3 linked regions of the Homo sapiens genome follow. The protein of the gene in region 3 interacts with the protein of the main gene of each other region in a pairwise test. Each region holds a gene or a part of one and is shown on either strand. Other genes may lie near its edges. The genes, in order: ITSN1, NOD2 and WBP11.

Evidence for each region.
Region 1: the proteins of WBP11 (region 3) and ITSN1 interact in a two-hybrid assay, tested with the Homo sapiens proteins (2 studies listed by BioGRID and IntAct).
Region 2: the proteins of WBP11 (region 3) and NOD2 interact in a two-hybrid assay, tested with the Homo sapiens proteins (one large-scale study listed by BioGRID and IntAct).

The regions. Positions count from the first base shown.
Region 1 is NC_000021.9:33,648,992-33,652,642, reverse strand, and holds part of ITSN1 (intersectin-1), read right to left. Parts: intron 1-3,651. UniProt on the Homo sapiens protein: Adapter protein that provides a link between the endocytic membrane traffic and the actin assembly machinery. Acts as a guanine nucleotide exchange factor (GEF) for CDC42, and thereby stimulates actin nucleation mediated by WASL and the ARP2/3 complex.
Region 2 is NC_000016.10:50,714,007-50,717,657, forward strand, and holds part of NOD2 (nucleotide-binding oligomerization domain-containing protein 2), read left to right. Parts: intron 1-1,001; coding exon of another isoform or gene 1,002-1,002; exon of another isoform or gene 1,003-1,475; intron 1,476-1,602; exon of another isoform or gene 1,603-1,749; intron 1,750-2,580; coding exon 2,581-2,664; intron 2,665-2,884; coding exon 2,885-2,968; intron 2,969-3,651. UniProt on the Homo sapiens protein: Pattern recognition receptor (PRR) that detects bacterial peptidoglycan fragments and other danger signals and plays an important role in gastrointestinal immunity.
Region 3 is NC_000012.12:14,786,479-14,790,129, reverse strand, and holds part of WBP11 (WW domain-binding protein 11), read left to right. Parts: intron 1-996; coding exon 997-1,179; intron 1,180-2,631; coding exon 2,632-3,065; 3' UTR 3,066-3,651. UniProt on the Homo sapiens protein: Activates pre-mRNA splicing. May inhibit PP1 phosphatase activity.

The sequences.
Region 1 (3,651 bases), on a different chromosome or scaffold from region 3:
CAAGTACCTTTTACATGATAGGGGGAATGCATCTGAGAGCGGTATGCTGCAAAGGCTTTACAAACAACTTTTGGTCCAAGAATTTTACCTATCTTTATTAAAAAGCAAAAAGACAAAGAATCTATAGGTCCAGCAATAAGTGACTGATTACATATATGACGATGTAGCAAAAAAGGCTGCAAATACAACACATTAAGTGAAAAACACAGGCTACAAAACTGTACGTACCTGAGGCTACAAACTGGCAAGGCAACGAAGACTGAATCCAGCCCTCAGGTATGCTTTGAACCCCAGTGTGTTAACAATAAAAAGTGTGGCCCACATAAAAATCAGAAGATTTCATATTAAACCCACATTCTCCTAAATAACTATAAGGTGTAGTAACACCAGGACGCATCCTCCCAGAACCACAAAGGTCTGGGTTGACTGGCCCTGGACCGTCCTGCCACCTTCAGTGCTCGTGGTCCCTAACAGGCCTTCAACTCTCCCGGGCTAAGTAGCTTCACACCAGGCACCTGCTGGGTAATTTGAGCATGTTGACCTTCACAGGGTATTAACAGTCATTATCACTGGATGGTAAGATCTTGGTAGGCTTTTAGTCTTCTTTCCTTATATATGTTTCCAAAAGTTTTCTTCAATAAACATGTATTCCTTTTGTAGTAGGAAAAAACATGTTATTTTTTAAATTACCAAATCACAACTGTAATATTAATCACTTCATCTACCAAGATCAAAACAACTAAAGATAACAGATAATGACTGTGGTTTAAAACTAATTGAACTAAGAATTAAAGTAAGGTTACGATTACTGCAGGATTTCCCTCCCTTTGATACTAATTAAAACTCCAGATTGGACAGACAACAGCAGCATTTTACAAAACAGATCTTCCTCAAAGAGAACAGCTTCTATAGACAATGCAAAAGCCTGCTATTTTAAGGATTCATTCCCATACATTTAAGATTTCTTTCACTAAAAAAAGGAAACAAAATCTCTCCTATAGAAACCTATATTCATAACCTCAATTAATTTGTTTATAAAGCTAAATAATTCTTGATCTTTGTCTTACACTGCTATTTCATTTGATCAATAGTAATAATTTTATGGGGTTCTCTTTTCCTCAGAGAAACTCCGGAAAGTTTACACAAATTACCATTCATCTCAAACCATTCCTGAGACCTCACAAAGTACACCACATTATCCTCATCACAAAGATAAAGCAGAAGGCTAGGTAGAAACGTCAACATCCATAGACAGCTGGAAGCCGAGTCAATGGAATGTTCCTCTCTATCCATCCTCCAATCCACTCCCACATGATACTCAGAAGGAGATTTTTAAACAAAAGCACATCATGGGACTCCCCTGCTTAAAACTTACATTAACTTCCTACTTCCCAGACATTCAGAGTCAAGTCCCAAGTGGGCCTCTCTCCTTCACTCCCCACCTGTCTCTCTTGCCCCCAGCACTTGCTCTGTACCAGCTCAGAGCCCTCGGGCCTCCAGGCTTGAAGGACCTCAAACACTCCTTGATTTAATAAACCAACAAATAACCCTTGCGTGTCTGCCAGGCAGCAGGCGCTGCTCTAGGGCCTGGGGCTAGCCCCCTGGACAACAGCGATACACTCCCTGCCCTCATGGAGCTAACATCCTGGTAACCCCGCTACCAAGTTTCTTCCTCCTGTAATCATTTAAAGAATATTAAAACAACAATTGTAATAACTGTATCTGAAGGGGTCTAAAAATAAGCAGTGCTACCTATAATACAGATCTATTCTCATTTAATGACTTTAATATTAGCTCTTTATATTAAGTGCAGGAAAGAGGAAAAATAAAGGCAAAGGGAACTACTATTCATTGAAATCTGCTATATACCAAGAATGGCACTCATTTTCTTGTCAATTTTTCAAGGTTTCTCTCATTACTAGCTATATAGCTTTCATTCATCAGTGGCCAAAATGCAATTCTCCAATTCTGCAAGACTGGGGCAGCTGAGTTTCAGATAACTTCAGAAATTGAAAGATAACTTGGTTTTAAAATCTACTATCTTAAGTTCAGAGCGGAAATGAATTGATTTTTGTGAAACACTGGATCCACAATGAACACTCCTATTATAGATAACACACTGGAATGATATATGTGTTTACACAACATTTTGTCTGTGTTAGAACAATAAAACCGGTCAGGAAATTTGCCTTGCAGAGAAGTAATTAACCCTGTACACACACACAGGCAAACAGACACACACACACAAAACGAATGGCTCCAATTCGTTGGAGCTCCAATTCCAATCTTGTTGCAGTGCTTTTATGGTAAGAGTCAGCGTCCTTCTTAACTAGGTTGGTTAAAGCCTGACACTAAAAGCCAGCTGACCTCGTCCACGTCCATGAACTGTATCCATGTCTTGCAAATGCATGCCACCAGACACCAGAACGATTTGCAGACATAATGCAAGGAGGAACACATCAAATGCTCACCAGTGCAACAGAGGAGCAAGAGCATTGTCCTCCTGTATTAAAAAGAGGATGTTTAATTTTAACCACCAAGGGTAAAATTCTGACCACTTGCTGTGTTGCTATGACCTTGTTATTTTCTTTCTTTCTTTTTTTTTTTTTTTTCTGAGACAGAGTCTCGCTCTGTCGCCAAGGCTGGAGTGTAATGGTGCGATGTCAGCTCACTGAAATCTCCACCTCCTGGGTTCAAGCAGGGAATTGAAGCAATTCTCCTGCTTCAGCCTCCCAAGTAGCTGGGATTACACTTGTGCGCCACCACGCCCGCCTAATTTTTGTATTTTTTAGTAGAGATGGGGTTTCACCATGTTGGCCAGGCTGGTCTCAAACTCCTGACCTCATGATCCGCACACCTCGGCCTCTCAAAGTGCTGGGATTACAGGTGTGAGCCACCACGCCCGGCCAGACATTGTTATTTTCACATTCGAATTCACTTGAATTCAAAATTCTGCCACAGCCCTCAGCTCAACTCCTGGCTCCACCACTCAATGAAGGGCCAAACGCACTACCACATGACTCCAGCAGACCCCATACCACACAAAAACAATGACAGGTTTTGGTGACCAACTGAAAACTGAGCTAGGCAGCCAAACTCAGTCCAGAGAGCTGAAGCCAAAACAATTTCACCAATGTTCTCTCTGGGCAGTAAGCTAATAAAGCAAGCTACCTATCATTAATTCTACTAGAAAAACACCGAAAGAGCAGTGATGCATTAAAATAGATTAACTTGCTTAAAATTCACTTTCTTAGAGAGCTACGAACTTTAGGAACAAAACTGGAGTGACATTCTACCATCCCATGTATTAATAAAAATGTTTTGGTTTACTTTTCAGTGATCTCCCAGTGGATGATATCTCTCTACACTGAGGCCTTCACATTCAGGAAGCAAACTTCCTTAGGCCACTTTCTATCTCCAAAGTGGCCAACATTCACATTCAGGAAGTAAACTTCCTTAGGCCACTTTCTATCTCCAAACTCGCCAACATGGAACTACCTGGACACACACACCCAGCTGTCTCCCTCATCACACTTCTGTACAGTCTTGCGTTTCTAAGACAAGTCCACATCACAAGTGAACTGCCTTTTCAAATTTCACTAGTCTTCTCTAGCACTCTAATCCTGTTTTTCATGCAGGGGTACTTTAGGA
Region 2 (3,651 bases), on a different chromosome or scaffold from region 3:
CATGATACTTTGAGTGGGAATTTGGAAACCTGTCTGTTGGAGCAATTTCCCTGATAGAAATAAGAATGTGCATTTTCCTGGGTAGTAGACTCAGTTTTTACCCCAAGAGGCCAGGCATCACTGGCCTGTGTGATCCTCATAGGCCAGTCCATCTCTGGAATTCTTGAATGGATCATCCATCCTTGATTAGGGATGTCCCCGTGATTACCAGGGTGTGCAGAAGGGCTCTGGGAAACCTGTGGGTCTGTCTCTGTGTTCAGAGAAAGGTGAGGGTGGCCTGGTTCTAGCTCATGGTGCTCAGACTGTGGTGTGTAAAGGCACTCGTGGCAATGCAGATTCCTGGGCCTGCCTCTAGTGATTCCCATTCAGTAGGTTTGGGGTGGGGCCCAGGAAATCTATATTTTTCACAGACACCCCTGGTGATTCTGATACAAGTGGTCTCGCCCTGGGAGAACTACTGGTCTGCAGCAACCAGCTTGGTTTTCCATTAGCAATTACTGTCCTTGAGCGAGTTTTACTGCTCTTCACCTTACACACACTAAAACTGCCAAGGCCGTAGGGGAGGGGAAGCAACCATGAGGTTGCTGTGAGTGCACTGTGTGTGTGTGTGTGTGTGTGTGTGTGTGTGTGTGTGTGTATGAGAGAGAGAGAGAGATTGAGAAAGAGAGGAAGGGAGGAAGGGGGAGGGCACAGGCTCCTCTCCCACAGTGCCAACCTGCCTCTCTCCCACTTGAAGTGTTTCCATGCCAACTGAAATCCTCAGCCTCTAGGAAACCCTATATACACAGTGCCCCTATATAGGTTTCTTTAGACTCTGGCTCTCTCAGACTCTAGAGTGATGGCTTTAAAAGTTTTTTGAATGTTACCCACAATGATTGAGAAAGAGAGAGAGAGAGCACGCACCACCATGTAAACATGGAACCTAAGTTTCACAAAATGACTTCGCTTTATGAACTCTGAGACACTCTGCTCTCTTCTGTTCTGTTCTATTTCCATTTTAGAAATGCTGCTCAGGACCTTCAAAATGATTTGCATGACCTGCAACCTGCAGTCTGAAAAATCACTGCACTACAGAAGTGGCCATAAGAGGCCCTGAGGGAGAAGCTGCACAATGTCATGGTTAAGAGTGGGGTTTGGAGCCAAGCCGCCTAGGCTCAAAGCCTTTATGTGCCGTACAACCTTGGCAAAGTCACTTCGCTTGTCTGTGCCTCAGTTTCTTTCTCACGAATGCTCATAATAATGGTTCCCATTTCACTGGCTTGTTGTGAGGATGAAATAGTGTTATTATTGAGAAGTGGTAAGGGTAGTGATCAGTGCTAGCGATCATGATTCTAGGTGACTTTTACTGTGTACCGGGTGCTCACAAGGCTTTATGTGCACAGCCTGGTGAGGCTGATAATACTATTGTTCCCTCTTTTTTTTTTTTTGAGACGGAGTCTCGTTCTGTTGCCCAGGCAGGGGGTACAGTGGCACAATCTCGGCTCATGCAAGCTCTGCCTCCCGGGTTCACGCCATTCTCCTGCCTCAGCCTCCCAAGTAGCTGGGACTACAGGCGCCTGCCACCACGCCCGGCTAATTTTTTTGTATTTTTGGTAGCGACAGGGTTTCACTGTGTTAACCAGGATGGTCTCGATCTCCTGACCTCGTGATCCGCCCGCCTCGGCCTCCCAAAGTGCTGGGATTACAGGCGTGAGCCACCGTGCCCGGCCTGTTCCCTCTTTTATAGATGAAGAGACCAGCAAATAACTAGTAAGTCGCTGATCAGGATCACAATATCCAGCTGAGGCACTCCAGAGCCTGAGCTGTTAACCATTCAGTCAGGGCCTCCCAAGTTTGCCTAAAGATAAAGAATCATGTGCACAGTTGTTAAAATATACAGATTCCTGGGCCCCACCCCGCAGATACTTGATTGCCAGCTCCAGGGTATGGGCCTGAGAATCTGTCTTTTAGGGAAGCTTTCAGATGATGTTGTGATCAGGTGAGTTTTGGGAATGGTGCCCCAAGAGGAGTGGCAGACAGGGCTTGCTCGGCAGGGACTAGCCTGTTGGAGTGGTGCCATTGGGGTTAAGGACTGGGCAGCAGGGCCTCACTAACCACAGCCTATATGCCTGTTTCTGAAGTTTTGGCCACTCTCATCCAGCTGGTCTACTGTCTGCTGACCTAGATGATGGTAAATTGTCCCCAGGGGTAGCCTGTCTAGTTCAGGCTGCACCTTTCGCATATATCAGCTCCTTTCCACCATCATCCCCTTTGTGAGGCTGCTGTGATTATCATGTTCCTTTTGCAGAGATGGAAACATTGCCTCAAATTAGCTCTGTCATTTCCTAAGGATTCCAGGGTTCTTTAGTAGGGGGTCTGGATCCTACGTCCTGGGCCATCCCCATCATAGTGCACCACGTCACCTCCCTGGCCAGGGACCGTGGGGTCTCCACTTTTTTGGGGTGCTCCATCTATGCAGGGTTTCCTGGAAGCACAGATGCTGGCACTTCAGGGATGAATGAAAGTCTTTTTGGGGGATTTGTAGATTTTTTTCTTGTCTTACTAGCTCCATTTTCAAATGTATTTATTTTGTCTCTTTAGTTTGCGCGATAACAATATCTCAGACCGAGGCATCTGCAAGCTCATTGAATGTGCTCTTCACTGCGAGCAATTGCAGAAGTTAGCGTAAGTCAGCCTGGGCTGTGGACAATGGGCTCCAAGTGCCCTGGTCTCACCCCAGGTCGTGCAGCCTGGGAAGCTGTGAGTGATGGGCTGGGGCAGGGGCTGTTTGCATGATGGGGGGTGCAGGTGATTCCTGCCCAGAGGGGAAGGGCAACCCTGGGATTTGGTGCTCACTGTCCAATGTGCTTTGCTTCTGTGTCTCCTCTCTTCTGGAACTGAACAGTCTATTCAACAACAAATTGACTGACGGCTGTGCACACTCCATGGCTAAGCTCCTTGCATGCAGGCAGAACTTCTTGGCATTGAGGTGAGCCCAGGTTTTCCTTATTCCCTGGAAACTATTTTTTGCCCCATTCCTGAGTCAGTCTGATCTGGTCTTGGCCTGGCACTGCCCACACTGGCTCCTGACCTCCTGATTGAATGCAGGGACAGTGTCTCATTTTAAGCAGGGGTTCTCTAATGCTGTGATCTCCCCAGTAAACTCTGGACTAGCTCTGCTGAGGACTTCCTGTCTTTTGACCTTTAGCCCGTAGGGCAAGAAAGCTTTTCTAGGCCCCTTTCCTTTTCTGTGTCTAAGAGTGTCACAGCTTTCTGGGTTTACTGAGTTCCACGATGCATGTTGAGCTCGTCCTGGTGGGGGAGGCATACACAGTTACTTGCCACCCCAGCTGTGGCAGCGAGTTGCTGCAACACTCCCAGGAGGTCCTTTCACCACTCAGAGCATGCAAGGTTTGCAGTCCATCTGGTTCTGCATTTCTGCTACTCCAGTGTCTCCCAGTTTCAACAGGAGTCTCTCTCTCTCCTACCTGATGCCTTTAAATTGCCCCTCTAGCTGGCCGCTGGGTTGGCCTGGCTTCTCTCTCCTTCTCTCTCTCTCAGATATTCTTGCCTCCTGTGATTTGTGAGGCAGTAAAAAAAGACAAAGTAAAGAATTGCTTCCATCTATTCTTTTACCTCTTGGGCTGGGTTTGTGGATGGGAGCCGCCATTT
Region 3 (3,651 bases):
ATTGGCAGCAGGTGGGAGTAAGACACAGTTAATAATGTCTTGTGTTCTTAGGTTAGGAATGTTGAATGTCAGTGTAATCTCCATAGTTTTTTAGTTGTAGTTCTTTTTTAGAGGCAAAGGTGATTAGTCTGTTTATTAAGTGTTCAGTTTGAAAGTATAAAAAGATTATTTATGAAATGAAGCAACAGAGAACTTTTCAGCTATTTGTGATTTTAGTCCTTCATCCTATTGTCAGCCTACTAAGTTTTCTTCAGTTGAGCTAATCATTTTCCGATTGGTGCAAAGCAAAGTTACCTATTTTATGTCATTCTTAGTGGTCTTTGTCTATATATTCATGAGTTTCAAGGGGTCCTTAAAGCATTGTGTTTTATATTCCATTTTCAGCTTATACTGGAACCATTTAAGAATTCTTATCACCTTTGTATATTTCCAACATTGCGGAGCTGTGATTGAATATGCTTTTTGTCAGTGTTGGGAAATAAAGTGAAAAGATCCACAACAAATCCAGTACCATTTTTCTGGTGCTCAGATATATTTTTTTTTTTAAGACGGAGTCTTGTTCTGTCACCCAGGCTGGAGTGCAATGGCGCAATCTCAGCTCACTACAAGCTCCGCCTCCCGGGTTCACACCATTCTCCTGCCTCAGCCTCCCAAGTAGCGGGGATTACAGGTGTCTGCCACCATGCCCGGCTAATTTTTATGTATTTTTAGTAGAGATGGGGTTTCACCATCTTGGCCAGGATGGTCTTGAACTCCTGACCTTGTGATCCACCCACTTCAGCCTCCCAAAGTGCTGGGATTACAGGCATGAGCCACCATGCCCGGCTGTACTCAGATATTTATTGAATGAATTCTGTTTCCATGTATGTTTCATTAACTTCTTGAAGTTAATCTGATTTCAGGTTAAAGTCAAACCATATTTGAGTTACTTTTAAGCCATAATTATTACTTAGTGTACATTTGTGTGACATTAATTTATCATTTTTCTCTTTTCAGGAGCTCCTCCATTCCTGAGACCACCTGGAATGCCAGGACTCCGAGGGCCCTTACCCCGACTTTTACCTCCAGGACCACCACCAGGCCGACCCCCTGGCCCTCCCCCAGGTCCACCTCCAGGTCTGCCTCCTGGTCCCCCTCCTCGTGGACCCCCACCAAGGCTACCTCCCCCTGCACCTCCAGGTGATGCTTTCAATTTCTATAATAAAAACTTAGCCTGCTGTTTATTTAATTTGCTCTAAGACATATGGTCACATTTCAGTATTCTGAAATCTGAGGTCATCTTACAGTCAGTGGTGGTTTTTAAGTTGCCGTTGACCTGGCTTGAAGTACAGTTCTTCCAGTGGGTATTTGCACTTGGTTCACTTGAGGAACTTGTAGCCAGAGAACATGGGATTAAATTCTCTATTTGATAATTTTTTGGTTTTAGTTGTAGTTACGAAGCCGTTTCATGCATCTGCATGAGTACCAACTTAAAGTTTAAAATTAGAGTGTTTTTTTCCCTTACCTCTACCTAATGTCAAGGTTAGACATGCAGATTTTCTTGTGGGCTTGTTTTATGTGGTAGGTATATTTCTAGTTTACAACACTGAAATGTCCCAGTTTCATGTGAATATCTGCTTTTCAGTGCCCCAGCTGGGGCTTTTTTTCCTCTCTCTCTCTCAGTGGTACACAGAATAATTATGAGTTTGTAATCAATAGGATCTTAGATTTGATAAAATGTACTTAATATTTCATTTAAAAGTGGTATTTGAAGAACTGAAATCTGCAGTTCTTGGTATATGAATATTGTGTATGTCTGAACTGTCCATAGGACATGAGTTCTTTTCCAGTAATGATGACAGATTGTGATTAGTTGCATTCTCTTACTCCATGTGCATTGTTTTTTTCTTTGAGACGGAGTTTCATTCTTCTTGCCCAGGCTGGAGTGCAATGGCGCGATCTGAGCTCACTGCAACCTCCGCCTCCTGGGTTCAAGCAATTCTCCTGCCTCAGCCTCCCAAGTAGCTGGGATTACAGGCGTGCACCACCACGCCCAGCTAATTTTGTATTTTTAGTAGAGACAGGGTTTCATCATGTTGGTCATCAGGCTGGTCTCGAGCTCCTGACCTCAAATGATCCACCCGCCTCAGCCTCCCAAAGTGCTGGGATTACAAGTGTGAGCCACCATGCTCGGCCTCCGTATGCATTTGATGACCAGGGTTAAAATTTTATTTCCTGCCCATTGACCTTTTTGTGCAGGGGAAATGGTATGGAATATAATGCATGGGGATCAGTCTCCTGACCTTGTCCTTACTAATACCTGCACTATGCAGCTGGAATAGAACCTTGGGATGTGAGATTTGAGATAGTAATTTGAAACCAGTTGATGTCCCTTTATATTTTAAAGTAGGATGTTATTTAGAGAAGAAGAGAACATAATACTGTAAGTACAGGAATATAGGCTGAAGGTAAATACTGTTTTATAATAAAATATTCCTGAGTTTCAAATAGCAACCAATATGAATTCAGCTTATTTTCTGTAAGTTGTTATCCATTTATTTAAAAATTGGCAACCAATATTTAAATGTCCTTAATAGTAGTTAAATTTTATTAGTTCTTACAGTATTCATCTTGCCTATTTTATTCATTTAGGTATTCCTCCACCTCGTCCTGGCATGATGCGCCCACCTTTGGTGCCTCCCCTTGGACCTGCCCCCCCTGGGCTGTTCCCACCAGCTCCCTTGCCAAACCCTGGGGTTTTAAGTGCCCCACCCAACTTGATTCAGCGACCCAAGGCGGATGATACAAGTGCAGCCACCATTGAGAAGAAAGCCACAGCAACCATCAGTGCCAAGCCACAGATCACTAATCCCAAGGCAGAGATTACTCGATTTGTGCCCACTGCACTGAGAGTACGTCGGGAGAATAAAGGGGCTACTGCTGCTCCCCAAAGAAAGTCAGAGGATGATTCTGCTGTGCCTCTTGCCAAAGCAGCACCCAAATCTGGTCCTTCTGTTCCTGTCTCAGTACAAACTAAGGATGATGTCTATGAGGCTTTCATGAAAGAGATGGAAGGGCTACTGTGACAGCTTTTGATGCCAGAAAAGGCTTCTGTTCACAACAGTGGCCCATGGAGAAAGAGGCTCTTATTAAACTTAGATGAAAGAGCTGCTTCCATTGTCAGGGTATTTTCTAATTTCAGTTCAAGGAATATCCTAAAATTTAGCCTTGTTCAGAATTTACTGCACATAAAAAAGGGTATTTCATCCAGAATAGATCAGTTATTGAAGCAGTGCTGCTAACATCCATTCCCTTTCATACCACCATTTTCACCCTGTTTCTTCCCCTCCTCCAGTTCTTTGGAAATTTGTGATCGGGGGATCTTAGTTGCTTATTTGTTTTGACTCTTGTGTGCTGTGGGCACTGGAGTAGAGATTTCTGGAGAAAAAAAAACAGTTTATTTCATCTTGCCTTTTGTGTTTGAGTTATTTTTAATATTTTCCTGTAAATATTTTGTAATATTTTACTTGTAATGAAATGGATCACAATGTCATTTCCTAATACAAGGCAGGATATGTGGGAAGAATATGTACAATTATTTGATTAAAATTATTTCCCACTGACCTAAACTTTCAGTGATTTGTGGGAAAAATAAATAAATGTTCTACACCA